Linked DNA regions of Homo sapiens: region 1 is linked to region 2. Evidence: fine-mapped expression QTL. A gene starts in region 2. The other region holds a variant in brackets. All regions are shown on one strand. Distances are from middle to middle.

Evidence for each region. PIP is the estimated chance that this variant, and not a neighbour inherited with it, causes the effect.
Region 1: its variant is fine-mapped to the expression of LIMCH1 in iPS cells (PhLiPS, PIP 0.95).

What each region holds. Positions count from the first base shown.
Region 1 is chr4:41,357,041-41,371,728 of GRCh38, forward strand. It overlaps a transcript of LIMCH1 not described here. Among named protein-coding and RNA genes, the nearest start is that of UCHL1, 110 kb to the left of the region's middle. RefSeq lists an enhancer at 5,784-6,445. The variant A/G (reference allele first, on the strand shown) is at 6,073.
Region 2 is chr4:41,530,037-41,547,249 of GRCh38, forward strand. LIMCH1 (LIM and calponin homology domains 1) reads left to right here and starts at 8,121. Exons shown (of 32, transcript NM_001330672.2): 1 at 8,121-8,314. LOC105374423 (a long non-coding RNA gene) reads right to left here. Exons shown (of 4, transcript XR_001741667.2): 3 at 15,179-15,333; 4 at 13,418-13,700.

The sequences.
Region 1 (14,688 bases), 170 kb before region 2:
AGCACAACAGGGTGACTATAGTGAATAATTTAATTGTAAATTTAAAAATAACTAGGCTGGGCATGGTGGCTCATGCCTGTAATCCCAGCACTCTGGGAGGCCAAGGTGGGCAGATCATGAGGTCAGGAGATCAAGACCATCCTGGCCAAAATGGTGAAACCCTGTCTCTACTAAAAATACAAAACATAGCCGGGCGTGGTGGCGGGCGCCTGTAATCCCAGCTACTTGGGAGGCTGAGGCAGGAGAATCACTTGAACCTAGGAGGTGGAGGTTGCAGTAAGCCCAGATTGAGCCACTGCACTTCAGCCTGGGTGACAGAGCAAGACTCTGTCTCAAAAACAAACAAACAAACAAAAACTAAAAGAGTATAATTGGATTATTTGTAACACAAAAGATAAATGCTTGAGGTGATGGATATGCCATTTACTTTGGTGTGATTATTACATATTTTATGCCTTTATCAAAATATCCCATATACTTCATAGATGTATATACCAGGTATATACCCACAAAAATTAAAAATTTAAATAAATAAAAAAAAACACAAAATTATTAGCTCCTAAAGGGCATAGTCTGTGTCCCCTTGTGGATTCTTCTGTATCTTCCACATAGTAGGTTCTTAACAACTATTTATGGATATTATTGATAGCAGCACTAGGTTTGAATTCTATTATGGTTCTAAGTCTGTGGGTCTTTGCTAGCGTGAATTTGTGATTGGTAAAAGCTCAGAAAAAGCAAATGTTACCTTATGATTATAAACCTTAAAAGATGTAAAATGTATTTTCACTGAAGGAAAAAAGTTTTATTTAAATGCCAATTTCAATGCCAGATATATTAGAGATATGATAAAATTTAATACTCATTTTCAAATGGATTTAGATATACCATCTGGGCTAGCTCGCTTCCCTTCCTCCTAGTTACTCCATGCAGTGGAACCTGCCTATATTAGCCCATTCTCACACTGCTATAAACACATACCTGAGACTGGGTAATTTATAAAGAAAAGAGGTTTAATTGACTCATAGTTCCACATGGCTGGGGAGGCCTCAGGAACTTACAATCATGGCAGAAGGAGATGGAGAAGCAAGTGCCTTCTTCACAAGGCGGCAGGAGAAAGAGAACAAAGAGGGAACTGCCAGACACTTTTAAGCCATCAGATTTTATGAGAACTCATTCACTACCATGAGAACAGCACGGTGGAAACTGCTCCCATGATCTAATCACCTCCCACCAGGTCCCTTCCTCAACATGTAGGGATTACAATTCAGATTATAATTCAAGATGAGATTTGGGTGGGGACATGGAGCCAGATCATATCACTGCCCAAAGCCATATATTGTATTAGTGTACCAGAGTCATTTTGTGGACTGTTTGCTTTGCCATGTTTCTTTATGGAAACAAGGTCATCTTCTGCCCACACGTCTTTAGCCCTTTCCCATGCTTGCCTTCTTTATCTCTTCTTTGTATACTTTTCCCTCCCTCTGTTTTGGACAGCAGGGTGGAGGTGAGGATCAGTGGTCTGTACTCAGCAACTGCTTGTTTGTCAGGTCCAGCTTTGGTCTGTTTACATTCAGTCCCCTTGTTCGTGCCTTTCACAATGATTCTGCTGGATGACTATATCCACCTCATTTTAGGTGAGGAAACTGAGGGACACACTGTAAGTGGGAGTCTGGACAGGACTGGTAAGACAGCTTGGTGTGCAGTTAGGAGCAAATCTGGCGCCAGGCTGTCTGGGCTTGAATCCAACCCTCCCTGTCCACCAGCTCTGTCCCCTGGTTTCCTCGTAGGGATGATAACAGTCCTATCTTACAGAGCTGGAATAAGGACTGAGTTAGTCAATTATTTGTAATGCACTTAGAACAGTGCCTGGCACAGTATAAGTGCCACGTAAGTGTTTTCAAAGCAAATAAACTAAAGCCTGTCTGACTCCAAAGCTGGTAATGGTGGAATTTGAGGCCTGCTTTTTGTTCCATTCCCCTATTATAGCAGCAGAATTGGACAAAGATTAAACTCGGATTCTGGATGGGGAACAGAGATTTAGAGGCTGAGGCACCCAGGGACCTCCAGCCACCGTCAGAAACCTCTTGTTAGCAGCCATTCTGAAGAGGGGAATCCATTAGCTTGAGGTTAGGCCAAGAATACTGAGCTCCTCCGGACCCAGCGCTGGGCTCACGTAGGTCAGAGCTCCCTGGTGGCCTACCAGGGTATACCCAGGCAACAATCTAAAAGGTAGTGTGTGCCCCCTCACCCGCAGGCGGGACCTGGCCTGCCTCTCCCATGCTATCATTCCCGCCTGGTGCTCTCCACACCAGCTCCAGTCTTGCTGGCCCGCTGTGGGCTCCTCCACGGGGAAGCTCATTCCTACCTTAAGGCCTTGGCATCCATCTGGAATTCTTCCCCCAAATTGTTACACAGTTAAATCTCCCTCACTCATGTCACCTCTTCAGGACATTTCCTTACAGACACCTTCCTTGATCGTCACTTGGGCTGTAGTGCAAAACAGAAGGCATGCTCAAGTGGGAGTGGCCAAGGAGAGTTTAAAGGAAGGGTTAGAAAGAAGTGAGCCGGATCGGGAGACCATTATGGGATGGGGAAGCCTTTACCATACCTAGGCCTGGGAGGTTGAGTGGGACAAGAGGAGATGAGGAACCTTCTGGAAACCCCCTAACCACCTGCAGGAAGGGACGAGATAAATAAATGCACGTCTCTCTTCAGCTCACTGACCATCTGCCTACCTCCCGTTAATGGAACCGCGACTCACAGGTCAGCCTCCCAGCCAAAAGGGGGGAAGGCTATCGGAAATTACCCCGCGCTTTTTCTTTCCATGTCATTATCTTCTCCTCTTTTATCTTAACAACACCCGCCACAATTATCTTCTTTTGATTTACATGTTTATTGTCTGTCCCGGCCCCCAATTCCCTCTACAATGTAGATACCTCGAGGGCAAGGACTTCCAGGTAGGGTGTGTGTGGGTAGGGTGTGTAGGGTGTGTGTGTGTGTGTGTGTGTGTGTGTGTGTTTCCATCTCTGCGTCCCCAGCGCCTGGCCCAGTGCCTGACGCATAGTAGGTGCACAGTGACTGTTGGTTGACTGCATCGACAGACTAGGACACAGGTAGCCTTCCTGGAGAAGAAAAGCTCATCAGGGTCGTTTTTCTTTTTCTTCTTACAAAAAGATCAGGTGGCTGTGTACTTCCCGGCGCCGGGCCAGGGGCTGCCCCGCCTTGCCCCTACCTCTGCGGCCAGGAAGGACTGCAGGTGCTGCGCGGCCAGTGCCCGCGCGTCCTACTGCTCCGGTGCCGCAGCGCCCGCTCCCCCGGGCCCGGGTGCGCCCCACTGGGCGCGCGTCTCCCATATGATGCCAGACCCATCCGCCCGCCCCTCAGCAGCCGGCGGGGCGCAGGGACGTGCGGGGCGGCCAGCGGATTCCCTCTATCGGGCCGGGTGTGAACGGGAGGGAGACACGCAGCGCTCGCTCCGGGTTATTTTTAGTCCGTAGCTGTGCTCCCCCTCCCCGGGGGCGGAGCGGCCCTCGAAGGTGGGGAGGAGAAGAAGCTCCCGGCGCCTCCGCGCTCGCTCCCGCGGGTCACTCACGGCGCGTTGGAGCCCGGGCGGCGCCGGGAACAGCTGCCGCGGCGTCCTCTAGCAGCGCGCGGCTCTCCCGGGACCTGCGCCGGCCGGGGGCGGGGAGAGGCGGGGAGGGGAGGCCGGCGGGCGGGAAGGGGCGGGGAGCGCGCTCCTGCGGCGGCGACGGCGGCGGCCGTCCTCATCCCGGCGCTTGAGAGGACGCGGGGCTGCGCAAATGGCTTGTCCCGCTCTCGGTCTGGAAGCTCTTCAGCCCCTGCAGCCCGAGCCGCCCCCCGAGCCCGCCTTCTCCGAGGCGCAGAAGTGGATTGAGGTAGGTGCGGGTGGCTGGCGGGCGGCCTTGCACTGGCGCCCTGAGCCACGGACCCGCGCACGCTCCGACCGCAGGTCCAGCCTTGCCTCCCCCCAACCGCCCCCACTTTCTTTTGCCAGCTGCTCCAGGTCACCCCCCCGGGCCTCGGCGAGCCGCGAAACCTTAGCGCTTTGGCATTGGAATCCCGGGCGAGGGTGGGCGTGAAAGGGGACACTGCAGTCTAGCTGCGCGCGTGAGGGCAGGAAGGGATCCCCTGCGCGTCCATCCTTCCTGCCCGCTGGCCTCGCAAATCTCAGCTAGCGCCGCTTCCAGGCGCTGCCAAGGGAAGCGCAGTGCTAGCAAAGCGTTGCAAAGGCGCAGGAAGCGCGAGCCCCCAGAGACTTCACCGGTGCTCGCATTTCGGGGTATCTTGCTTCTGGTCCCACATTTCGCCCCTTGTCCCCCTACCCCGCACCCTTCCGGAGCAGAGTTGGCAGTGTCTTCACGGAGGCGCATACCCACCGGAGCCTCTTGCTGTATTCCTGGCACCGGGTCAGGTGTGAGGCTGGCACAGTGCGCAGGGCGGGGGTAGCTTGCAAGACCCACCTGCGAGCACGCATCCGCATAGACGCTGCCCAGCCTTTGGCAACCCCCGCCCCTCTCCATCCCAAGGACTGCAGGGTCGGTTCCGAAGTACGGGCTACCCGGTCTGGTTGGCATATTTCACTTCTTAAATAACTCGTTGGCAGGCCAGGGAAATCACTGGAGCTCTCGGCTCTCAGTCCCGGAAGCGCTCACTGGGTGATCCTGATTCACGATGTCTATCAGTAGATGCAGCTTGGTAGCCCCGAGCTCCCGAAATGAACTGTCTGCGGGGTTCAGGACGCTTGAAGGGCATGAAGGGGAAAGGTGACCCCCTATGATTAGTGCAAGGAGCCTCAGCTTCAATGGGTGGCCTTTCTGGAGGCTTAGTGGAAGGTATGAATTTGGCCTTGTTTCCCTCAGTGACAAGCAGCCCTCTTTGCCTGGTAGTTCAGAGGAGGAAGTGTATCGCTAAATCATGACCCAGCAATGTTGAAGCTTCCAGAATTCCGCCTGTCACTTAGTGACTCCCCACTCCGTTCAGCATTGTGGTTCCCAAGAAGCTGCTAGAGTAACAAGAGCTCCACGTACAGATTTAAACCTGCTGAGCTTCCTGCAGAAACCACCCTCACTTAATGCTGCTCTCCTGCTCCAGCCAGAGACCTGTACCCTACAGGGTTAACCTGCTTCCCGCAAGCAAGAGTGCTACTTGAGTATAGAAACATCTGTTTGAAAATAGGGTTCAAGAAACAGAACAATGAACATCAGGGCTGTCTTGCTGAAAGCCCCAGGCATGTCTCATAATTTGATAACTCACCATCAGATGAGAAAAAGACCTTGGCTTTTTATTTTTGATATGTGGCTGGAACGGTTTGGCGTGTGACAGGTGCTCTGCCTGTGTTGCGTACTTATGCTCCCAGGATACACAGGAAGCATTTGTAGTTACTGGCTTATTGCAGAGTTGGATAACTATTTTTCAGGTTCTTGAACTCTAAAATTCTCAGGAGAGACTTCGAGTGTGGGTGGGGGTAAGGGGAGGATCTAGAAGCAGAACAGTCTTTACTATTCTTGAAGGCAAGTGATTTATTCTCAATTTCCTTAACTGTATCATTGACATATTCTGCTTTAAAAATGTATTGTGGTATGAGTTACACATGTAAAAGTGCACAAATCTGAAGTGTACACCTCCATGAATTTTGACATATGTATATTACTATAGCCCCCACCTAAATCAAGATACAAAATGTCTCCTTTGGCCCAGATTACAGTTTGCTTTTAAGTGGTAGTATATTTCAGGCTATTATGCAGTGCAGAATATTAGCTTTAATATCACGTTTAAGAAAAGGAAGAAGGGATTCCTTAAGACAGTAGAACCTCATTAAGCCCTATAGACAGTTTGGGATTGTTCTTGATGCTTTACCATTCATACCAATTTAAGAATGTGAAAACCGTAATGGGGCATGCGTGGCTTTAGGACCAGGCAGCCCAGGCGAGCTGCGTGTGCATTATTGAAGTGGCCTATCTCCTTTCAATTGTTGGGTTCAGTTTCAGGGAAAGGAGAGCTTCCCCCTCCCAGGCTATATAAAAAGGTAATTGCTCCAGGGGAAAGATAGAG[A/G]CCTCCCCCTTCCTTCCCAGAGGTTCTTCTTGAAATGTAAATGCCGAGTCTGCAAACCACGGGAACCCAGAAGTTGTAACAGATGGTTTTGCATGCAGTTGCCTTGTGAACAAAGATTCCTCAGCTAATACAGCAATAATGTAGTACTTAGGGGCAGTGAATCCCCGGGTGGGGGGGCGGATTGGGGATTGGTATCTCGAGACAATTGCAACTCCTCTAGGGGCCCCATTGTCTCTGGCAGCATCCTCATTGGTAGGGCTTTGTTTTTACTTTTATTCAGTTGGTGATTAAATTTCCCATAGGTTTTTTTTCTTTCTTTCTTCTTTTTGAGTAGTCAGGAATTTCACCCTTTCATAAAAATGTTCCCTTGGGTGGAGCAAGTTAATAAACAAACTTTGCTGCTTGTCTCGCCTCGATTCTTGGTCTTCCTTGAGTCATGGATTGGCAAGAAAACATTCATTCTTAATAAAGGCTCAGGGAACCAGATCCAGGACGTAACTTGTTAGTGAGGAATTTCTCGGCGTGCAGCCTTGGCTATTTGAGGACCGTGTTACTGGGCAGGAAATGTGGCCTGGGAACGATTCCCCCACTTCAGCCCCCTTCCCCTCACTCCTTCCTTAGTTGGCAAAGGTGAAAGCTCTAACGGAGCACTAGATGGTCACAGACCACGTGGGGACAGCCCTTTAACACTCCTAGTGACTTTTTATAGCTGTAGGAACAGGTTGCACATCTAACTGTGTTTGGGAAGACTCCTAGAGGAGACAGCAAACTTGAAGTAGTAACTGTGGCTACCAGCAGGCAGGGGAGTGACTAACTTCTTTCCATACTACTTTTCTAGAAGGCCTTACTAAGCAGAACACAGTAGGTGAGAGGTCAGACCTTGGAGCTGGGCATCCTAGGTTTGAGTCCAGAGTCTGTTACTTTGTAGCTGGATGACCCTGAGCAAGCTACTTTTCCTTTACTGTGGTTCCAAATGATTTCTTTGGAAGATAGCTCTAGTTGTTAGCAACAACAAAAATGACTAAGAGTTATTATTGAGAGCATCTGTAAAACAGGATACTAATAACAGCTCACCTATTTCATAGGAGTGCTGTCAGGATTAAATCAATTAATATATTTAAAATGCTTAGAACAGTGCCCAGTACATAGGAAGTGCTGTGTAAGTATGGTTAGTAGTATTATTACCATTATTATTACCACTGCTGTTACTTTTACTACTACTATTATCATTATGATAATTATTACTACTACTGCTATTGCTATTGTTTTTTTCTGTTGTTAATAACAACTAAGGTTGATTTTGAAAGAAATGATTCAGAACACCAGATTTCCCGGGTAGAAAATATGATTCAATTGCCTACTGATTTCATCCTATTATCTCACTCTGTTAACTCTGGATACCTGGAGTCGAAGTTAACTAGATGCTACATGTCACTCTAATTTGCACTAAAAGTGACTTGGGGATCAGAGAAAAACCTTTAATATCTACTCATAAAGTGATCTTGGTAGTCCATCAAAGCTTAGAAAATTATTCTTCAATATTATGCTGAATATGTAAGTTTAATGTATAATCTTTGTTACCAAACTCCAAGCAGAATGCTCAATGCCTCTCCTCTTGTTCTTGTAGATGATCTAATATTAAATCATTATACAAATAATGGGTCCAAATATTCATCTAAATGCAGCAGAATTTTATTCACTGAGGTTGTGTCAACTCCTGCTAGGAATAAGAAGAATTCTTCCATTGATTTTCTTTCCCTCTTCCTCCCTTTTATTATTTCCTTCTTTTTTTTTGGTGGTATTTATTGAGTTACAAGAGTTTATTAGTAGGTTAGATGACTCTGATTTTCCTGATTCCCCGCTTCTCTTGGCCTCACCACCCACAACAATATTTATCTGTTCTAATCTGTGGTTCTTCTTTTCAGTGCCAAACACTTTCTGAAGAAACAGATGTCCTTCGACTTGGTTTCGGTTATGATTTGGAACAGGTTCCCAGGCCTTTAGGGAGGGACTGGAAATTTCAACCCAACTCAGCCTTATTTCTCAACTTGAGAAGTTCCTGGACTCCTTTACCTTCAATCAGAGTGTGCCCATGGGGCTTGGTGATGAATACAATCTTATTTGTGACCTAATCCATACTTCACAAGAGTGAGAACTAGTGCTGGAAGGGATCAGTTTCTCATTTTGGTTCATTCCCTGCTGCCCACATAGAATTGTTTTCTTATTCAGCTGGGACCTAATTCTGAAGATTAAAAACACTGAGGGTATCATAGCTCTCCAAGACCAAAAGATGCTTGTGTTGTTTGGCAGTAGGGAAAATTTATGAATAGCTTTTGAGATAATTTAGCATTTAATGGCCAGTAACATATGACTTTTGTGATGTAATACCATAAGTTATACATGTAGTCATTCTAATTCTCCACCTCTGTAGGGACTAGATTCTTAACATCTTTTTATCCCAACAGGTAGTTAACTTTGCAGATGGTCCTCCAGCTTTGCATAAGTTGCCAAGGAAGAGGAAGAAAAAACTTTTCTGGCTAGATCAAGGAAGGAGTAGTGGTCTGAATAGATATGTAAATGAGAGCAGGCGGCATCTTTCTCACAATGACATTTAAATAGTCTAGCTTGTTTGTATACAAGAGCAGCTATGACACAATGCTGTCACATGGTAGGAAAACAGTGAGGTCCCACAGATTTGGGGAAAGGGGATGCGGAATGGGAGGTGGAGCTGGCACTTCTTGCCCCGGCATCTCCCTGGAAACCAGTTGCATCAGGCGAGCTCCAAAGGGCAGACTGAGCACTGGCTACCAAGAAAGGGAAGGCTGAGCATGTGTTCTCAGCCACTGGGTCTCTTGGCCTCCAGCTCTCTGCTGATGGATGACAATAGAGCCATGATGTAGACAGTTGGCCTTGATTCTGTGAGTGGCAGTCAGTGCTAGGTGGGACTAGGCAGCTCTAGGAGTACTAGAAATTGGCCTGGCAGCTTCTCTTTTTGCTTTAGACCATTCTGAAGCTTAAAAGCATCATAGTTGGGGGATAACATGATGATAAAAATTATGTTAATGATGCTGATGTTGCTGATGATAAAAGGTACTATTTATTGGGTGCTTATTATGTGCCTGCTAAAGTCTATGTACAGTTGGCCCCTCGAAGTGGCGCAAAATACATTTTGTATTTTGTATTTTGGCCTTGATTTTCATGATTCAGGACAGAATCAGTTAACACTGGTTGATTTTTGACCAAACTGTTCTTACTGGAATTAGGTTTTCCTTTTAAGCCCAGTTCACTGTTCTGAGATTTTTTAAAAAGTACAATACAATTTTATAATAGAACACCTCATATGTTCCTTAGGATGTGTGTGTGTTTACATCTGAGGCAGAAGAAAGGTATCAGATATGATCTTTTTTGGAGGAAGGGTAGGGTAGATAAAAGGATGACTTCAGTGCTATTAAATCAGGAAAGGAAGGGATAATAGAACTTTGGTTTTAAGTGATTGAGAAATATAAAAATAGCCTAAACTAGAGGGCTAAAGATAATATAGGGGAAAAATAGTTCTTAAAAAAATGATAGAATATTGGAAAGACTTCTGTCTGGACATAAGATGTTATATTTCAAGGAGGAATGATGCCGTGGAATTCAGTTCTGCTGTGATAAAATTCCATGTTTGCAATATTGAAAACAACACTTCCAAAGAGATGCCCATGCATCTAACCCTGATGGGATGTGTATTAGTTCATTTACATACTGCCATAAAGATACGACCTGAGACTGGGTAATTTATAAAGAAAGGAGGTTTAACTGACTTACAGTTCCACGTGGCTGGGGAGGCCTCAAGAAACTTATAATTATGATGGAAGGCAAAGGGGAAGCAAGACAGGTCTCATATGGTGGCAGGAGAGAGAGAGCAAGCGAAGAGGGAACTGCCAAATGCTTTTAAAACCATTAGCTCTCATGAGAACTCACTCACCATCATGAGAACAGCATGGGGTAACCGCCCCCGTGATCCAGTCATCTCCCTGCAGGCTCCCTGTCCTGACATGTGGGGATTACAACTTGAGATGAGATTTGGGTGGGGACACAGAGCCAAACCATATCAGGATGGCTAGTGTATCTCAGGGAATTACCTTTGGCATCAGGAAAAGGACAGATGATATAGTCATATAAAATGCACCTAAGAAATAACTTGGCTGATACCTTTTCCCACTGTCAGCAAAACTGTGCTCTATGCTGAGACCTTAAGAATAAAATATTGGTTAGGTTGGGAAAGCTCCATGTTTCCACTGTCCTGCATTTTGCCTGTGAGAGTTACTCTAGTGTGGCTGTTGGAGGCTGCAGCTTGGCCTCCTGGTCAGTGTAAGTTAGGGACTGCCCCACCCATTCACCCCTAGATAGCCCATTAGGAGGCCATGGAGGAATACACCTGCACTTGCTTTTAAAATCAAGGTCGGCTAGGTGCGGTGGCTCACGCCTGTAATCCCAGCACTATGGGAGGCCAAGGCTGGTGGATCATGAGGTTTGGAGATCCAGACCATTCTGGCTAACACAGTGAAACCCTGTCTCTACTAAAAATCCAAAAAAAAAAAAAAAAAAAAAAGGAAAGAAAAATCATCCGGGCGTGGTGGCAGGCACCTGTAGTCCCAGCTACTCGGAACGCTGAAACAGGAGAATGGTGTGAACCTGGGAGGCGGAACTTGCAGTGAGCCAAAATCGCGCCACTGCACTCCAGCCTGGGCGGCAGTGCGAGACTCCATCATAAAAAAAAAAAAAAAAAAAAGAAATCAAGGTCAAGAACAGAAGGACTTGTAGCTTTTTCATTTCCATGACTGAAAACTGTTAAAAAAAATTCCTCAGCCTTATTTTTTTGCCAAGTATGTTCACCAAATGGGTCTGCACCAAGTGAGGAACTGAAGTTATATTTATTGCAATGAGTACATAGCTATCTTTTTCTCCCCTCAGAAGTGTTTAAAAAATATTTTGAACAATTATTTTATTTTAATTGAATATCTTATTCCAATTGAAATGGAATGAAAGCGACAATAAGCTCAGTCAAATTGTTAAAATATGAAAATAATTATTTGGGAGACTTGGCTATCACTCATTTGTAAGTTTGCTTCAGTATAAACAGTGGCAAAAATAAGCATTAATATTTTAATGTGTGAAAGTGTGCTTTCAAAAATTATTTCCTGAAAAGTGTTTACTGAGCTCCAACAATGTGCAGCATAGTGTTAGGCATGGTGTTAGGTAATGAACAAAATAAACATACTTCCTGCCCTCATGAAATATACAATGTGGCAGGGGGACAGAGAGATTAAACAATACATATATAATTACGATTTGGAATACATACTATGAAGACAAAGAATGGGGCAGGGGGGATTAAGAGAAAAGCACTCTTTAAAAAGACAAGGATTCTTAGTGAAAATAAGATTTAAGCTAAGACCACGGAAGAATTCTAAGCAGGAGAATTTGATTGATGATGATTTATTGAGAAAAGGGCTTGCGTTGGATGCTACACATACTTTTATTATGATTGTGTTTTGAAACAAGGTAGGGTAGAAACACTCTTAAATTTCTCTAGGTCTATTGAAGGTAGATATGTGTTGGTGGTAGGGCAGGGGGTGAAGGTACCTGCCTCGGAAGTTCTTGAATATTCCTTGCAGGCCACTCAGAGTTTGCATGATGATCCACTGTCCATTTTACATCTGAGGCACAGATAAGAACTCTTCTAAGAAAAATGCGGAGAGGACTTTGGGATTTGTGTTTGAGCCTAGACTCTGGATTAAAATTCTTGGACAAAATAGAGGCTGTAGAGGCTGTACTCCACTCTTAGCAGGAAGGGGCTGCGGGAAACCTGCTTGCTTTTCAGTGAGGGAAGAGAGCCATTTTGTGTGAGACTTAGGGTGGTGACCCACAGATGTCTTCTCATTTGGGAACTTTTCCCAAATTCTTCCAAAAGAGGGGGCTTTATAAACTACTAAAGCCAGGTGCCCTTTGGGATCCTCATAAATTGTAAACCCTGGAGGTCCTTGACTGAGATTCCTTTCAACACTTGAACTACCATTCTTAGACCCCCTCCCCCATCTTCCCAGTCTAACATGGCTGCTGGAGAGTCGTGATCACATCACCTTTCCAGGAAGCTGGATGGAGGCAAGGAAAGTGAAGAGTGCATCCTTCCCATATAAGGTGGCTTCTGGGAAACCCTTTCTGACATACTGGCTACTATTTTATTGCCCAGAACTTCAGGAACATGGCCCTTTCTGTATATAGGAGAGACTCTGGAGAAGGATCTTTTACCCCAGGCAGGAGTAATGCTCAGATAATATTCTTGAGTTGTATTCCTCAGGAAAAAGGGGAGAATGGCTATTGGGGTAGCCACAACCTGGAATGCCCCTTCTCCACTTCTCCAGGGACAAATCCTTTCAAGATAGAGCTTAAACCCGACTGCCTCTGCAGCATGGTCCCTGATTCCTCTAAGCTCATTAATCCTTCCCTTCTTTGTACACACCTGAGCCTCAGTTTTTGCCTTTTTTTTAGAAAAGTTGCTGTATTTTACTATCACGAATTTTTTTTGTGTGTGTGTGTGGTGGGGGGATTTGCCTCCTTTGGTGAACCCCAGAGCCCTGTGGCCAAGGACTGCGTCTTAGTCATCACCCTGTTCCCTCCTTGTTTCAGCCAGGCTGTTCCTCACTAGGGCCTCACAGCCACATTTCCCCACTGCCTGAGCGCTTTCTCAGTGAGTCTGTGCCCAGCTACGGTTGCCTGATTGGCACTTGGACTTGGCTGTGGCAGAGAAAATAGACTCTGTTGCTGCCCTGACAGGAAGCAAAGTGTGTGTGTGTGTGTGTGTTTTGTAGTGATTAAAAAAAGCAGTTTACCCAATAGTTGCCTGGAGACAGTCAGTGATTGGACACTCGGAGGGTGATTTCTCTGTTGGCCCTTGGGTGAAGATATTCTTTAGGGTGCTAACCCTCCCCTCAAGTTAGACTGGGTCAGGGCTCGTTGGAGTTCCTGGCTGCAAGGCGGGAGAGCAGACATCTCTTTTCTTTAAATAAACATGCCCCCAGCATTCGGCCTTAGGGCTCTCACCTTCTCTTTCTTTCCCTAAGTCAAAGCAAACCTCTCTTTCACCTGTTATAGAAGTCTAGCTAATTCCCACTTCTTAGGATGAGGGAAAGATAGAGCACTTCCAATGATAGTGAATCTAAAAAGAAATGGAAGAATTTTTATTATAGTGGTCACCTGTATGAGTTCTTATTAGACAGGTATTTTTAAAGGAAAAAAACCCAAAATAACTGACTAGTAGCTGGTATCCATGGTATCAATAAATGGCCACGGCTGTGACTGTTAATTGTCATGACCCAATGGGAGCACTGAGAAATAGCATCCCCTCTTCTTTTCCTATGGAAAATTAAAAAAAAAGTTGCCTGTGGAGCTGAATGTTGTCATCAGCCAACAGATGAGGTTGCCACCTTTTTCCCTAAGGGACCATGCAAGATGTCATAAATAGGAGGGGCCAGTGACAAGTAGAAGCCTGATTCATTATGCTGTTAGAGTTGACAGAGTGTGATAATAGTGATAAAAATGGCTAGTTCAGTGCCAAATAAAAATAACAGCAAACACACTTCTGGAACACTTACCATGTACAAGCGGTAGTCTAGGAGCTTGCTTGAGTGGTAGTGTAGGTGCTTGCATGAGGTGGTATATTGTGTATAGAACAAACACCCAGCACAGTGCCTGATATATAAGATACTTCTCAAGCAAGCACTGTTTATGGCCGTTTTACAGATGGGAAAATGGAAGCACGGAAATGGTAAGTGATATGCTTGAAGCCACACAGATAATCAGTGGCAGAGCTGGGATTTGAACCCAGGCAAACTGGTTCCAGAGCTTGGACTGGTGACTGCTGTGTCCCGCTGCCTTATCCTTAACAGCTGCTCCGTATATATTTACTTATTGGAAAAAGTACCTTTGCAGAGTTAGTATTTGGGACCCTTTAGAAGTAAAAGCGAAACTTCTAAAAAGATCATGGTCCCAAGTAACTACCTAACCAAGCAGGTGACCTGCCTCTCTCCTTCTCTCTCTTCATTCCCTTAATGGTTCAATATGCTGTTTATTGAGCATCTTCTATATACATAGCACCGTTAGTTGCGAGGAAACAATTTCATCCATATGGCTCCCAAGCACATTCTCTGAAACTGGAACCCTTTCAATATGTTTTAAAAGATAATTGTCAGTAGGGTGGTTAGGACCATGATGAAAAATCATTACAGGAGCCCAATGAACCATCATCAGTGGGTGGAACCATTTTTACTCCCTTTCACTTCACGTCTATTTCCCCAGTCTTTTTCTCCTTGATTGGAACCTGACTCCCCCACTGGATTCAAATAGTCCTTGATGCTGAGATCCAGACTGGAATGATTATAAACAAGGGGAAGGAAAATGTGGATTTAGGGTGCCTCCCTGCCAGGCACCGTTAGTTCTTTGCGTATGGTATTCTGTTTAGTCTTTGTGTAACACAGGTATCTGCTGCCCCCGTCCCAGTTTGAAGTTCTCTACTGTGCCTGTTTCAATAAATTTCACCCATGTTAAGACTGGCAGGCCTGATCCCACGTAGCT
Region 2 (17,213 bases):
TCCATAAGTTCTTTAGACTTTAGGAAGCTTTCAAAAGTTATCTGCTTTAGTTTATGAAAACTGACATCAGAACAGTTGCCATTTCATCGAGTGAGATCAGAGTAGGGGAAGTGATGAAAGAGCTGTAGTGATTTCCACATTATGAGAAGATTAAAAATATTGTTTTGGACAAAACTAGACATACAAGGCTGTTAACCTGAGTAGTATGAGTGAAAAGCCTTTATGCAGACTTCATCTTTTTAGGAGGATAACAATGCAATAAATTGGGGTCCTCACTGCTTTGGGTGTCTAGCTGTCAAGAAAAGGTTTCCTGCACATCCTTCCTAAGAATTAGCTCTGGTGTGCCTCAACTCATCCTGATCAATGTCTTCTCTTCTAGAACTTTACCTTCCCTCCAGTGGTTTATCTTATAGATTACCTTAGAAAAAACTGGTTAAAGTTCTGTTCTCCGGGCTCGGTCTCTCCTCCAGTTAAAATTGTTGTTTTTTGGCCAGGCATGGTGGCTCATGCCTGTAATCCCAGCACTTTGGGAGGCCAAGGCATGCAGATCACCTGAGGTCAGGAGTTCGAGATTAGCCTGGCCAACATGGTGAAACCCTGTCTCTACTAAAAGTACAAAAATTAGCCTGGCATGGTGGTGTGTGCCCGTAATCCCAGCTACTTGGGAGGCTAAGGCAGGAGAATTGCTTGAACCCAGGCAGTGAGCCGAGATTGTGCCATTGCACTCCAGCCGGGGCTACAAGAGCGAAACCCCGCCTAAAAAAAAAAAAAAAAAAAAAAAAATTTTTTTTTTTTTTTTTTTTTGGCCAGGAAGCAGGCAAGGCAGGGAAGAGGGAGGTTAGAGGTGAAAGTTACCACAGTGATAACCATCACGTATCACATTCCTACCCTGCCCCAGGTGCAGTGCTAGATCATCCTTCCTAATCTTTACAACACACCTGTGATGTTGTTATTGCTGTATCTTTACTCTAAAGTTCAAAGAAATGTCACCAGCTTTCCAACTAATAAGAGGCAGAGTTGGTACTTGAACCTGGGTTTGCCCAACTCTACATCTGTGCCTTTTCTACTGTGTTATACTCTCTCCATTAGACCCTAGGATATAGAATTGAATCTCAACACTTTCCGAACATTTGTTTGGAGACATCAACCTCTAAGGAGACCTAAGTTGTTAGAAATCAGACTCTCTCATTTAAAATTTATTAATTCAACCAAATTGAGGAAGTGGCCTTTTTGAAAAAGGCACTGCTACATGTAATGTTTCTACCATGGCCACTATCAAATCAGGCTTCATGTGGCCATACCTAACAAGTGATCATAGGAAAGCATTAGAATTCTTTACTGGAGTCTTAAAAAAAAAGTCAGAGTGATTTTATTCATAATATGCAGCAGAATTACCTAAAATGCCCTCCTCTCTTTCTCTTCTACAGTCTTTCTCTGTCACACACACACACACACACACACACACACACACACACACACATACACACCTTATACTTGCCAACTCTCCCAAACCTCTCTATGCCCAGTGACCTCAAATCTTTGAGCCTCACACTGTGCTAGTTCTTGCCTTCCTTGCTTCTTACCCTTTTGTCTGCTATGACTAATGGTTAGCTCTTTCCAGTGCAAATCAATCCAGCTAGACTCGGCTCCTTTTGCCCCTGATTCTGATTCTGGACAACAAAGACTCAGAGACAGGAAGACAGAATTCTCCTTCATGGGTAGGGGAGAAGGAAGGGCTTGGAATAAAAACCCTCATGTGTTTTTCCTGCTACTCTGTGTTCTCTGTAGTAGTTGCATGGTACGATCCGGAGTCTCCAGGGGTCGTCCTCCCCTTCTTTAGGGGAACAAGTAAAAACTGGTAGCCAAGCGATGTTCTGTGTGAAGAAGGCATATTCACTGAGGGAAATGAATAGACATTGTGAGGTTTCTCAGCCAAAATGGAATTTAATGACACACTTTCCTTTATCCTCATCCCTGGCACAGTATGAGAAACCTCGGTTGCGTTCCCACACCACACACAGAGGGAATGCTCAATTTGCTGCTCTCAAGTTTGATGCCAAAGCCAAGCCAACATAGGAGTGATGGTTAGCATTTTAGTAGGTCTAGCCATGAAAGACTACACACCGCAGGGAAAAACAACAAAACACACGAGGTCTTTGGTGCATTCCACCTGCATTCAATTGAAAGGTGGAATATGAACTTGGGGATTCTAAGTTTATTTACTGCCTCCCAGGTTGATATGGCTTGTGTGCTGCTGTTTGAAACAGCCTTTACAGTTAGCTTGTAAAAAATGTACAGGTCATCTCGTGTCCCTCATCTTCTCATAATTTTATATGGCTCCCTACTGAATGTGGAATAAAATCCAAACACTTCAGAAACGTATTTAAGGCTCTTCCTGAGTGAAAGTAACATTCGAGTAACATTCAAAAGTAACATTTATCTCTCACTTTGTACATCACACTCGGAAACCAGGGCAACAGATGGTTCATGACCTACACCAAAAGGCTTGACCACATCGTGAATACAGTGATAAAAGTGTGTCAGATGGCAAGAGCCATTCTCCACTGTAGGTTGGACCGGGTGAAGGGGAGTTCTGATGCCCACTGGAGCAGGCTGGCTTTTGGTTGTTCACTGATGTGCTTGGATCAGACCAATAAGTTAGTCCCCTTGCGCATCTTTTGTGGGTATTTGGGAAGACTTAATAAGAATTTTTTGTCCCTTCACTCATCTTGTGATTATTATGTCCTTTCTGGTTTTCTTTTATTTGGTGAGAGTTTTAGTTATTAATTGCTCTATAACAAATTACCCCAGAACTTAGTGGCTTAAAACAACAACATTTATCATCTCATTGTTCTCATGGGTCAGGAATATGAGCAAGGCTTAGCTGGGTCTCTGGTTCAGGGTCCCTCACAAGGCTGCATTCAAGGTGTTGGTCAGTATCATTTCCAGGCCAGAGTAGGGAGCTTAGAACTTCCGTTTCTAAGCTTACTCGTGGATATTGGCAGGATTCAGTTCCTCACAGGCTGTTGGCCAAAGCCATCCTTGTGTACTTGCCATGTGGGTCTTTCTATAGAACAGCTTACAGGGTTGCAGCTTGCATCATCAGAGTGAGCAAGCAGGAAGGGCCTGAGAAAGAAAGAAAGAGAAAGGGAGGGAGACAACAAGTGAGATGGAAGTCACAGTCCTTTATAACCTAATCTCTGAAGTGATGTTTTGTCAGTTCTGCCTTATTCTATTAATTAAAAGCAAGTTGCTAGGCCCAGCCCACATTCAAGGGGAGGAGGTCCCACAAGGGTCTGAATGCCAGGAGGAAGGGATCTCTGGGAGCTCTTCAGAAGCTGCTTGTCCCGATGAATGAAATGGTTGTATCCGTCTATTGAGCAGCCAGGGCATAGATCTCTCATTCTCCTGAACACCGGCTCCTTGTGCTTATAGGACTTTAAAGATAACACAGTTTTCCTTGGTTAACCTTTCTTGCATGACATCCAAGGACTTTTTTCTAATTTTCTTCTGCACATATATACCAAATAGAGATGATGTGTTCTCTCTCTTGCCTTCCAAGTAAAAATCCACTTCAAGACATAATTCCTGCCTTTTAGGAGACTACTTTCTAGAAGACAAATATAGAAGAAAGGTCAAATGTAAGGTAGACTGTGAAATGTTAATGAAGTATAATATGCAAGAAAGACCAAGGAAGAAATTTTGATTTGTGATTAAGAACTTTGGAAGGGGTGGGATTTGAACAGGGCGTCTACAAATAGTGAAGATCATGGAGTTAGAGGAAGAACAACTAGCTTCAGGGCATGGAATGAGAAAGGCTCTGAGTCAGAAGGACCTGGGTCTTATCTGGAAGTGGCTATCATTTGCATTATTTGCACTGGGTCCAGTGGCTGCAGCTGGACGCAGAGTCCCTGAGAAAATCCATGCTTGGAAACTAGACCAGGAATAGTAAGCTGAGACCAGAAATGCCATCTGGGGGTGTTTGGACTCATTTTGTGTGCAGTAAAAGCCACTGAAAACAAGGGAATCTCGTGTTCCAGATAACTGAGGTGGCCGTATAGAAAGCTGATTATGGCAAGATACCAGCAATAAAAGTCAAGTAGGAGATAAGTAGTCCAAATGAGAGAGGATGGACACTTAAACCTTAGTAGAAGCAGTGGGATTAGAGATGAGGAGACAGGATTTACTTTTCACTAAATGTAATATGCCATCAATGATGACACACACCATTTTTAAAAATTATAGCTCATTTAAAAAAGCTGCCAATTCAATGATGACACAATGCTAAGACACTGGCAATGAAAAAAATGCATCTTTATTTCAGAGGTTAAAAAAGGTGTACATCTTAGAACTGATGAAATACAACAGATAATTTTAGGAAGATGACATTTGCATTTTGGACTTGAGCAGTGTGGAGGGTACTGATGCCATTAATAGGAATCATGGGAACATGGGAATGAGAAATGAGCTCCAAAAGAAAAGATGCATTCTCTTTTGGACATATTGAGTTGGCTATCTCTAAAAGATATTCATGTGCAGATGTCTGGCAGACTATTAGAAATGCTGGTTTGGAACTCAAGGAAAAAGTTACAAAAAATTGGACTAGGTTAATGGATGGACTATTTTGAAGTTAAATCCTATGCTTCAGTATAAATGAAGACATATTTTTTTTTTCTATAACCACTATGAAGTTCCCCTCCCCCTCCAAATTATAGTATTGTCTTTGGAGTGTTTGATCCACATTGGCAGGGACTGGGATATGGAGAAAGGAGTGAAAAAAGGAGTTTGAGACTACAGGAAAAGTCATTAGCAATTGCACTTAGAATTGAAAATCATGACAGAAAGACCGGTGCAGTGGCTCATGCCTATAATCCCAGAACTTTGGGAGCCTAAGGCAGGTGATCGCTTGAGCCCAGGAGTTCAAGACCAGCCTAGGCAACATGGCAAAATCTTGTCTTTACTAAAAATACAAAAAATTAGCCAGGCATGGTTGTGCATGCCTGTAGTCCCAGCTACTTAGGAGGCTGAGGTAGGAGAATCACCTGGGCCTGGGAAGTCAAGCCTGCAGTGAGCTTTGAATGTGCCACTGGACTCCAGCCTGGGTGATGGGAGTCGGACCCTGTCACAAAAAAAAAAAAAAAAAAAAAAGAAAAGAAAAGAAAGATCTTCATATAATTGACAATTCATTGAGATATCATATCCATCCAATCTTGTGCCCTGCAGCCTCTCTTATACCCCTGATATTTCATTCTTAGTACTAGATGAGTATATTAATTTGCTCTGATGGCCATAACAAAGTACCACAGATTGGATGGCTTAAATAATAGAAATTTATTTTGTCAATTCTGTAGGTTAGAAGTCTGAGATCAAGGTGTGATCAGAGTGGGTTTGTTCTAAGGCCTGTCTCCTTGGCTCCCAGATGGCTGCCTTTCCCTGCATCTTCACGTGGTCTTTCCCCTGTATGTATCTGTGTCCATATTTTGCCTTTTTATAAGGACACTGTCGTATTGGATTAGGGCCCCCTCAGATGACCTCATATAACTTAATTACCTTCTTACAGTCACTACAGTCACATTCTGAGTTAGAACGGGTTAGGAGTTCAAGATACGAATTGGGGGAGGGAGGAGGAGACAATTTAGCTCGTAACAGTGGGTTAGCCAGCTAAGCCCTTAAATTCTTATTCACGTGTGTTTTGAATGCCTAGACTTGCTAGCTGAAGTCTAATATCCTCTTTCTGCACCACCACAAACTATTTTTCCAAATTTGTTTCCATAATTATTCTGTGTCTCTGCAGAGGTGGAAGGTTATATATAGCAGTGCTGTAAAGCTTTTTTTTCCCCAACTTCATTTTTTTTTCCCTTTCCTGTTCCCGAAAAAACAAAAAATGCCATTCTTTGAAGAAAGAAACCACTTGTTCTCCCTTATCTTTCGTTGAACAGCGTTTAGCAGAATTTGTGACATTACATCAGTTCCTCACTTTTTTCCCTTAGGAATAGACCTTCAATTACAAACTGTGAGCAAAAAATATATAATAGCAGGAAATACATATTTCAGCTGACGTCTGACTCCTTTTTTTCCATAGTTATAGCTTACCTAGAGGATAACTTTCTGTGGAACTAATTCTTAGCATGTATTCCAAACCCAGGTTTATAGGGATTTGGTTGTTTGACAACAGGAAAAAAATACCACCAAATGTATGAAGTATGAGACCATGCTAGGCTGAAACAGCACTTCTCTTAAAACGTGCCTTCCTCTGGATTGTTTTTGTAGGAAGTTTGTCTTGGCAAGCATTTCAAAAGAACTCGCTAGACGCCTCTCTTGTAATTAGCTGGCTTTCTGCTAGAATGTTAGGTCTACCTTCATCTCAAATGGTACAAAAATTAATTCCTCTCTGTCGCTCTGTCCACAGTATAAAATACTAGATTTCTGAGTAGTTTGATATCTAATTTTTCCTTTCTAAAATTTAACTATATTCAGTTTAAGTTTTTGATTTAACTTAAACATAACATTAAAAATAGGATGATTGATATAATGTTATATAGGAATGGTACTTTTCCTCTTTTCCCTCAGTGTTAAAAGAATGGTACTTTTTCCTCACAAAAACCTATATCCCCAGCCATGGAAAGAATATCAGACAAACCTAAATGGAAGGATATTCTACAAAATACCCGACCAGTATTCTTCAAAACTGTCAAGGCCATCAAAAGCAAGGCATATCTGAGAAACAAGGAAAGTCCAGAAAAAGTTAAGGAGACATAATGATTAAATATTATATGGCATTATAGATGGGATCTTAAAACAGAAAGAGCATATTAGGGAAAAACTAATGAAATCCAAATAAAACATGGATTTAGTTAATAGTAGTGTACCAGTGTTTATTTCTTAACTGTGATAAATGTAGATGTACCATAGGAATGTAAGATGTAAGACATGAGTTATACTGAAACTCTGCATATTATCTTTGTAGCTTTCTATAAATCTAAAAACTATTCTAAAATAAAAAGTTCACTTAAAGTAGGATGAATGACAATAAAGATAAAAGAGCATAATGCAAGGAAACTATGAAATAGGTAAGGAAATACAGAAGTTATTAATAAATATTAAATGTCAGCCTACCACTTGATGTATTTGTGTCAATAAATGGCAGGATACCAGTGAGTCCATTGGCATATTAATCCAATAAACTTTTATAAATGATGAATTGGTTGTAAACATTGTGTTTTATAGCATTTGAAAATTCCAAATGGTAACTCCGCACACGATGCTTCTGCTCACATATTTCAGCATCCTGCTTTTAGAATCTGCAGAAAGAAATAGTTCATGTCCTTTAGGGAGGTTTAATAAAAAGCAACAGGTGGAAAATGGATTTTGCAGTAGCATGAACAGCCATAACCATAAATACTAGTACCTCAGAATTATACCAGCAGAGGACTGTAAACACATTAATCTCCCAGCAGTGCAGAAATTCCATTCTCAGATGTCATCTCAATTTCAGGCACAAAGATTGAATGCCTCCATTTAAATTCAAAACACTGAAGGAATATGATGATCCTTTTTTTTCATGGGGATTCATGGAGTGAGTTTGCCAGTTTCCTCATCTATAAGATGGGGTTGATAAATCCCATCTCAGCATTGTGGGATTAAATGAGATGATATACATAAAATACCTAATATGATGGATGGTACACAGGATGTTTTCAATAAATGGTAGTTTACTTTTTATTATGCTCATGAACATTAGGATGGTCTTAGAATCCCAGAACTAGAAGCCACTTAGAGATTTACTTTTTGAAACATTGTTATTTTACAAATAAGGAAACTGAGACCAGAAGGCAGTGACTTGCCTGGAGTCAGGCAGCAACTTTGTTCCAGAGTTGGGACTGGAGTGAGTCTTTGTTCCTCGGGTCCCACTTGGGTGCTTTTTCTAGATCCAGATTTCCTGACAGTACTGCAAACCTACTGTGTGCTAGTGGCTGACACAAAGCTCTCTGCACAATTCCAATCCTGGCATCTCTACTTCTGAAGATGCCATTCCTTTTCCTCAGAGGGAATGGGCTTCTCCGCCTCCCTCTCCAATAGGTGTGGCAATCAGCTGTCTTCCAGTTCCCTTTCACTGCATCAGCATTTCAGCCGCAGCAGCCTGCTTGTGGACAGAGCAGGGGTTGGCAGTGGTGACGACTGTTTTGGGAAAGGAAATGTAAGGGCATTTCGGCTGCTGTGCTGGGGCTGACGAGGAGCACACAGGAGAGATGCCCCTCCCATCTCCCAGAGTGGGTTGGCTGGAGTTCATTGCGGAGCATGAGGACGTGTGGGGGTAAGTAAAATTCATTATAAAAGAAATACATGCTTAGGGGTATCCATGATGGAAAGAAGGAAGCTATTTAGACTTTAATACTTGGTTTAAAAAAAAGTGACTTTTTATTCACTTATTAGTATGGCGAAAATAATATGAAAATTACTTTCCTGTGGATTCATCTTGTCCTTTGATAACTGTTAGCACCTGTTGCTTTTAATTAAGCTTTTTTTTTTTTTTAATTCCCTAAGGAAAGCATTGTTTTTTATTTTCCGGTATGTGGTACAAGACACATAACTCCATTAGTTTAGTCAAAATAAAAAGGATTTTTGAGAATTTTGAGAATGAGAAGCAACTTGGCTGCATTTTTAAGATGTGGTCCAGCAGCACATGGTGTTGTGGGGGAGATGTGGCTGCATTCATGGTGGGGCTGCTTCACCTGAGCCCCTGTCACATTCTGCTCCTGACTCCACAGCCCCCTTTGCTTTTTAAAAACTTCCATTTCTTAAAATGAGGAGGAAAAGAAGCAAGGAAGACATTGGGGAGGCAGGGAGGAGTCTGGAGGGAAGGGCTGCATCTCCAGCCTTGCCCACTTAGTCCTTGTCCTTCATAGTCACTATTTACTGCAGGCCGGGAAAGGAATGGGGGTTATTTCTGGACAATTGTCTCATAAAATCCCGTCAGACCCGTCTGAATGCTAAACGTTCCATGGCACTGGTTATCTAGGGGAAGAAAATTTTCCTTAGCCAAATTTATGAGGCTGGGTTGAAAATCAGGTTGAAACAGAGCCTGGCGAATCCCTATGGCAAAATGATTCATCTTTGTGGAGTCGGGAAATCTATTTTTATCACCTTTATTCAGCCAGCTCCTGATTGTGATTCTCTCACTGAGCTACAGCCGTTTTCTTCATGGTGCTGAATAGACCAAATGTCTCAGGAGTCTGAAACTTCTCTCCTGCCACTCCCAGAGTGGCTGATTCAGCAGTCCCGGGAGAAGGGGTTTGTCCTGTGCTGCGCGGGTGGGTTCCGCACAAGGTGAAGGTCAAATAAAACCGAGAGGCTGCAAGTGTCAGCAGCCAGCCTTTGACTCAGGAATCCTGCCTGAGGGTATGTGCCACTCTGCTCTCCTGCTCTCTCTGTAAGGTGACTAGAAGGTGACTGGGCAGCCATAACTCCTCCAATTTTGAAGACCTTCCCAAGGGAAGAAGGGGCAAGAATAAGCCACCCTCCTTACAGCTGCCAATACATCTCCTCAATCTAATCATCGGGCAGAGAGGGACTTCCTAACACCGTTGTATTCATTTTCCCATTTCCATTTAGTTCTGTAACTATGCATTCCAGGCTGATACATAGTCCTAGCTGGTTCTTGCTGGAGTCCCAACTAATGCTGAGAGGAGTGGCAATTGTTCTCTATAATAAAGTTTAAAGGATAAAGATATGGAAGAAGAACTCACTCTTGAGTTTCCTTTTCTAATGGATTCAGCATGCTTACTCTCTGGGAGCTATAACAAATGGCAATTAGGAAAGCAACAGGAATGTTGACTAGACAGGAACAGTGACCATGGCTGTTGGGGGTATTCCCTGCACCTGGTATATAGTAGACACTCAATAACAATTTGGGAAATGAATGACCAGGATACTGTTCCCCATAGGCTTCAGTTGGCCTTCTTAAGAGCTCTCCTTCAGGACATAGTATGCAGGGCAGCTAGGAGCTGACATTCTAGAGTGAGATGGCCTGAGTTCAAATCCTGGATTTGCAGCTTCTCAGTTGTGTGCTGATCTTTGGCAGGCAACACAATCGTTTGTTTCCTCGTCTGTAAAAATGGACATAATATAGTAACTACCTTATGTGGTTTTCATGAAGAGTAAATTAATTAATATAGGTAAAGAGTCTAGATTTTTTTTTCTTGTCATGTGGTTCAAGATATGAAGAAGAAGAAAAACAGGAGTAGGAAAAGAAGGAGAAAGAGGAGGAGGAGGAACTTTGGCTGTTGGGATAAATTTGGGACCCTTTGAGATTTTGGCCCTGCCTTTTAGGTTGAATATTTCCCTAAAATCATGATTCAGTGATTTTTAAACCTTCTCTTGTCCTGTAGAGAGAATAATTTGAGAATAAAAGAATAAAACGGGCCAGATGCAGTGGCTTACGCCTGTAATCCTAGCACTTTGGGAGGCTGAGGCAGGTGGATCACCTGAGATCAGGCGTTCGAGACCAGCCTGGCCAACGTGGCGAAACTCTATCTCTACTAAAAATACAAAAGTTAGCCGGGTGTGGTGATGGGCACCTGTAATCCCAGCTATTCAGGAGGCTGAGGCAGGAGAATCGCTTGAACCCGGGAGGTGGAGGTTACAGTGAGCTGAGATCGCACCACTGCACTCTAGCCTGAAAAGAAAAAAAAAGAATAATAAAATGGATTTCAGGGGGAAAATGATGACGAATTATTGCCAAGAGTTATTGAACTCCTGCTCCTTGCCAGGTACTAACCATATTCAGTGTTGAAACAAACTGTCAGTCCTTGCCCTGATGGACGCTGCAGTTGACTTTCAAGGGCTGCTGGGCAGTGTGAATTCAATGGCTCAGCGAACACAGCTGCTACGTTCCTTGTTCTCTACCTTTTAAAAAGGAATGTTGAGTAGATCTAGAAGGATGAAGCTTTAAACTTAGCTCCCAACAGGAAATGAGGAGTGAGGAAGTAGGGAGAGATTTGTGTGTGTGTGGAGTAGCAGATGAAGTCTAACTGTACAGCAGTATAAAGGCAGTGAAAGAAATGTAGACGTGGGCATTGGATTGAACCATGAAACTGAAGGGAAATCCAAAGCAGTAATGTATCATCAACCTGTGAAATGTAAAGAAGCACAGGTAAGTAGTGAAAGAATGAAGGAACCAAAGCAGTTGTTGTAATGATATAAAATAAGAGCCATAGCTTATTAGACCCTTAGAGTCCCAAAGCCCAGCCTTGAGAGTGTAGATTCGGGAAGGCTGGATTCCTTTGGCATCCTCTCTTTTCAGCTCTGGGTACTGCCGCAGCAGGTGAGCTTGTGTTTGGTCCCTTTCAGAGTCTGGAGTCTCCCATCTCTTGGAAATACAAGGATATGTATGAGCTACCAACTCCCATCTGGCTTTACTGGTCTGTGAAACATTCTATTTTAATTTGGTGAATCCTTTTTTGACTCTAGAGATCTTCAGCAGTACCTGCCCTTCACACCGTTTCCTCACCTTTGCCAGATCTGCTTTTGAGTAGCAGTTTTATCCCTAGATGTCTTATAGCCCAGACCTGGTAAATCACCAATGTGAATTATAGAACAGGATCATTTTTCATCCTGCTTTCATCCCAGTGGCTGGATTAATTTTTGGATCTCTGCTTTCTGTAAGCAGTCATTTCTTCCACAGCAGCCATCTGTGAAGAAACAGAGCTTACGAAATGACTGGGGCATGTTTTACATGGCTGTGCTCAGTTCCTTCTGTTTGATTCCCATGTAAGCTTTGGCAGTGATTTCCACAAGCGTTTCTGTGGGAGGTGCTGGAGAATGACTTTGGTAAACAGCCCCTTGGCTATTGTTGGCCCTTTCCCTGCAAATACCATAAAGGACACAACTTGAAAAGTCGCTCTGGTTTCTGAGCCCCTCCTAGGGCCCACCCCAGGTCCGACATCTGAAAAGCCGAACTCAGCCATGCTTGTGGTAGAGCAGCGATGTGGACTGCGTCTGTGTTTGCCTGACTTCTGCTGGGCCACTCTGGGCTGGATGGGAGCTCTGACCATAGAGCTTACTCCCCTCCCCTCATTACACATCCTGGGATTTTCACACTAGCCCTCAATCTGTTGGAGTCTTTTTAGGTAGAATCTCATTTCATCTTCCTCGTTTCCGTTTCAGGTTTTCATTCCAAGAATGGAATGGCTGGTTCCATTGAGAACCAGCCTTAGGAGTTCTCAGTGTATTGATTTTATTTACACTGCTAGTGTTACATTTTGCTTTTAGGAATATGGAAAAGCTTAGGGAATTTTTGGACATGTGTTTTTCTCTCTTTCTTTCTTTTCTTTTTTTTTTTCCTGATGGCCAGAGGTTTCTGCTCTCAAATTACTCAGTCAGGGTAATTAAGGACTAAAAAAATGTGAATGTGTGAATTTAACAGTAAAAACTTAAAGGAAGGAAAAAATACCTTCCTTATAGGAAGAAGAGAAAAATGCATATAAATAAACTTGTTAGAAAGAGAAAACTGATTTACCAGCAACTGAACTCCCTTTTGTTTCTTGATTTTTTTGCCTTTAAATAGGCTGTGCTATTTCCTGAAGTTGACCCATTTTCCTTGCTTCTGCCAACACTCCCTTAAGATAAGTATTTATAAAGTTTATTCCACGTTGATATTTCAATTGTTTCCAGAAATCCATCCCATCATAGCAGCTTCCCTACTGCCAGGGAACCTGACCTCAGTATTTCCTGAAGTCAGAGGATGGTCTTATATGTATGTAAGTGCAGGTATCTACAGTAAGAGAGAACAACTTGCTATATAGGGCTCATATGAGTCAACGCCAATAAATTGAAAATAAGAACTGAAAAAATTGTAACATTGTCCTCACATTATTTTTAAAGCATTATCTGTTTCGATGCTGGCAAAACTGATTATCTTATATAATGGCCAAAGGAACTGTTCACTTTCAAGAAATAAGCAACTAGCCTGTCTTTGTTTTCATCAGCATGTTTTTTGGTGACTAATATGTTGATTTGATGAAAGCTAATTGCACAAACATGCGGTTTGTGGGGAAGAAGGTAACGCATGGAACTATGTCTAAGAGATGTGGGTGTTCATTCCATTGGTGGATCCAGCACTTTCTTCCTCAATAAAGAGTATTTGTTCCTAAAATAACTGGTGTCCTTCAAGGCACAGAATGTCTAACTCAGCTGAAGGTATTTAATTTATATTATAAATGTACATATATATTTTATGAATTTTAATAGAAATATATTAATTTACATTTATAAGTTTAAACATAAAAACATAAAATACATGAAATATGTTTGAGTGTATTGTTAGGGACATCTCTGAGCTCCTGTGGAGATAGTGTTTTTTCCCTAACATAACTTACATTTAAGAAAATTGGATTTTTCATGAAATTTACTCAAGTAAGACTGTAGGCTGAGTTTAATATATATGACAACTAAACTTTCGGCCCATATTGCACCAAATTAAAGCTTTCTTCTTTGTCTTTGAGCACAAGAATGAAAGCTGGCATACTGTCCGGTAGACTGAAATGTGTCCTCATGGTCATTTTGACCACCTTATGAGCATGATTAATTGACAACATGTTGTTACTATCTTAATTCTTTGGTCTGAGTCTCAGCTCCCGTGTCAGACCTCTGAGTCCCAAACATAGCGCCACAGTCTGGGTCTTCACATCTTGGCCAGGTTTCTGTTAAAAAAACAAAGGCGCCTCTGTGTTATACTTTTATGGAGCACATGTGGTGTGTATTTATTTTGTGATAGGTTTTTATCACTTGGTAGAAAGATGTTACTGTATCTTAAGTGAACGATTGTTTCACCCTGTTGCTCCACAGACCCTAGTTGTTTCTTTAAAATGGGCGATGGATTTTTAGGGGCGTATTCACAAACCTGCCATGAAAGTCTTTCTTCTCCAGATGTTTACTTCTATATTTTTATGTGAAATTCAACTTTTTCACCTATGGACATGCTTCCCTGCAGCAAATAACATGACAAACTCTTTGCCTTTATATTGTCTTTATATTTCAGATACCCCCCCACCCCCACCAAGCCTTCTCAATTCCAAACCTGTGATTATGCTGGATGCTTTACGTGTTATGCTCCGGCTTGTAATGGGCCAACTGAAAGATAAACTGCTATTAAATAAATCTATGACTCTTTTGAGAACAAATAGAGCTGTTGAAAGAGTTTAAAAACATAGTGACTCCTCGAAAGACTGTGAACATTCTTGAACCCTTTGAATCAAAGTGAATTTTCTTCACTCTCTGTGTGTGGGTATACACTGAAACTTATAAGAAAGAACCTCAGTAGCAAGATATTTGAAGGCTTTTGTGTTCTTAACCCTGCAAGGTTTTTCTTGGCAAGACTTGAAGAAAATGTAGCTGTCGTCTATTTTCTGCTCCTGTCGAGGGGAGCAGTTGAGTCTGGGAGGCCTCTAATGTGTCAGAGAGAAGCCTGCAGAGTAGAGAAGAGCCCAGAAGCCTCCAGGTGCCCAGTGGTTCCCTAATTATTCCATTACCTAGTTACCTGGTTTTCTATTACCTAGTTACCTAGTTATTCCATTCCATTCCACCTCCTCTCCAAGCAAGGCTGGGTGGTTCTTCTATTTTGATCTCTTCTCATGTGTCTCTGTTGCTGTGGAGCTGCAACATCAAAGCCTACCCCAGACCACACGTGTCTTCTGTTGCCACCACGTTTCCCTCTGGACACTGGATCAGCCTTACTGCCATTAGGATGCTTATGCTTCCTAGAAAGCCTCATTTATCTGTGCTGGGGCAGCTGCTGAGGACTACACAAGATTCACTGTCATGGGTTTAGCTTTCAGGGACTCCCCAACTTGCCTAAGTTACCTCTTGGGTCCTTGATTGAAACTCCAGTTGCCAAGTAATGAAGATACAGAATTTTGCATTGATCTCTCTTCCCTTTTCCATCTTTCCTGTTTCCATTCTGAAAGGAACTGCTCTGAACTGGCAAATGCCTACAGGGACTTCAGTGTCATAGGACAGGCTACTTTGACTCCTTTGTATAACCTCAAAGTCACTGCCAATACAAGGGTAAAACAGATTCTGTTCTTTGTACTCAAATTCAGTGTGATGTGAGTTGGAATGCTAAGAAAAACTTAAGAGATATTTTTAGCAAAAATGAAATATTTTGATGCCTATCGCTCACCTGAAAATTTTCCCAGATTTGCCATTTCTAGATTTTTAGCAGCTTCACAAAGGGGTATTGTGTTTGAGTCGGAAGAGAAAAATGTTTTTATTTCCTGTCCTTGACGTTTAGTGGAATTGATAAAAAGCATCAAGGATCTTTGAGTTCTGGATCTCCTGCAAAAAAACACATTATGTAAGAAAGGACTTGAGTGTTTTTTTCCTGTTCGTCAGTACGAGGGGAGAGTTACTGTGGAAAGTGAAGGGCAGTGATCATCAGGAATGGAAAACAAAGAGCTTTGCTAGAAAATCACAGCAAGGGTGATCAAGCAGTTACCCTATTATCTGGCTCTAAACTTAATGTTGACCTCGACAACGACTTTTACATCCTCCCCCCAAACAGGCTCCTTTACTCATTCCTGAAAGGACACTGTTGCAACTTGAGTTATAGGGTTGTTGGAGCTACCTGATGTTTTATTAAATGGTTATTTAATCAATAAATGAGTGAGTGATCATCTCTTATGGTTGATCAGAAAGTATTCATTTAAAAAGTCATAGGTTTAACTTTTTTAAAAGTCAAGTCAGCACAGAGCTTATGTATTTAAGCAGTTGGAAGTCAAAATATTAATATGTTCAGTCAAGAATATCCATTTCGTTTCATACTTACTTGGCAGTTTAATTTTTTTTTGGCCATAGTTTACATGGTCCAACTGTTAGGTTGCTTAAATTTGCCAATATGAAATATTAACATTGGGGTGAATGCTTTATGAAAACAAGAAATTGTTTCTGCTTGGTCTACCTGTTTATTCATTCATCAAGATTTCCCAGGCTCTGTCAACAGATTTCTAAGCAGATATTTGATGATATATTGTTATAGGAATAAAAAATATGTTATAGAAATAGAAAACTACCTTCCATGTAGAGTAGAAAGAAGCCTTCATTGGTCTGTTTTTTTTGTTTTTTTGAGATGGAGTCTCACTCTGTCACCCAGGCTGGAGTGCAGTGGTGTGATCTCAGCTCACTGCAACCTCCACCTCCCTGGTTCAAGCAATTCTCCTGCCTCACCCTCCCAAGTAGCTGGGAGTACAGGTGTGCGCCACCATGCCCAACTAATTTTTGTAATTTTCATAGAGATGGGGTTTCACCATGTTGGCCAGGCTGGTCTCGAATTCCTGAGCTCAAGTGATCTGCCTCTCTCAGCCTCCCAAAGTGCTGGGATTATAGGCATGAGCCACCATGCCCAGCCTGTATTTTTTTTTTTTAATAAAAATAATCCTTGGGCAGCTGTTTATGTTGTTCTGTTATGCTTGCCTATCTATAGAATGAAATCAATGTGGTTTTTTTTCTCAACTTTCTTCTTTTTTATTCTTTTTTAGCCCCATCATTCAGTCTCTTTGTTCCTAAGTCTTTCAGATGCTTTAACCACACTATTTTCTTACCTGATTTTCTGTTCCACTTAGCATGTTATTCCAGGCAATGAATGTGTTGCTTCCCCTGTGATAGATTATGGCACTAAAATAGTAATGAGCTTTAGTACAATCAGAGCAAAAATTACTCTCCTAGGTAAGCCCCATTCTTCCCCTAGCTCAATTCAGTGTTCCATTAGCCACAGAAATGCCAAGGATTCCACATACCTACATATATATATGGAGAGAGAGAGAGACAAGCGAGAGAGAGAAAGAGAGAGAGAGGTTGAGACCGAGATTGAGACAGAGAGAGCTAGTTCCCTGTCAGGTCTTTACTACTGGAAGAGTCAAAGATTTGCAAATGGAGATTTTTCTTTGCATCTTCTTCTTCCTATTATCCTTTTTTGTAAACAATGTTTATTTTATTTTTAATTGACAAGTAATAATTATATATATTTCTGGGATACAAGGTGATGAGGTGATGTTATGATGTCTATACAATGTGGAATGATCAAATCAGGCTAATTAACTGTCAGCTTGCTGACTTATTTCTTTGTGGTGAGAACATTTAAAATCTACTCTTCACACAATTTTGACATATACATTATTATCAGCTATAGTCGCTGTGCTGTCTAATAGATCACTGGAACA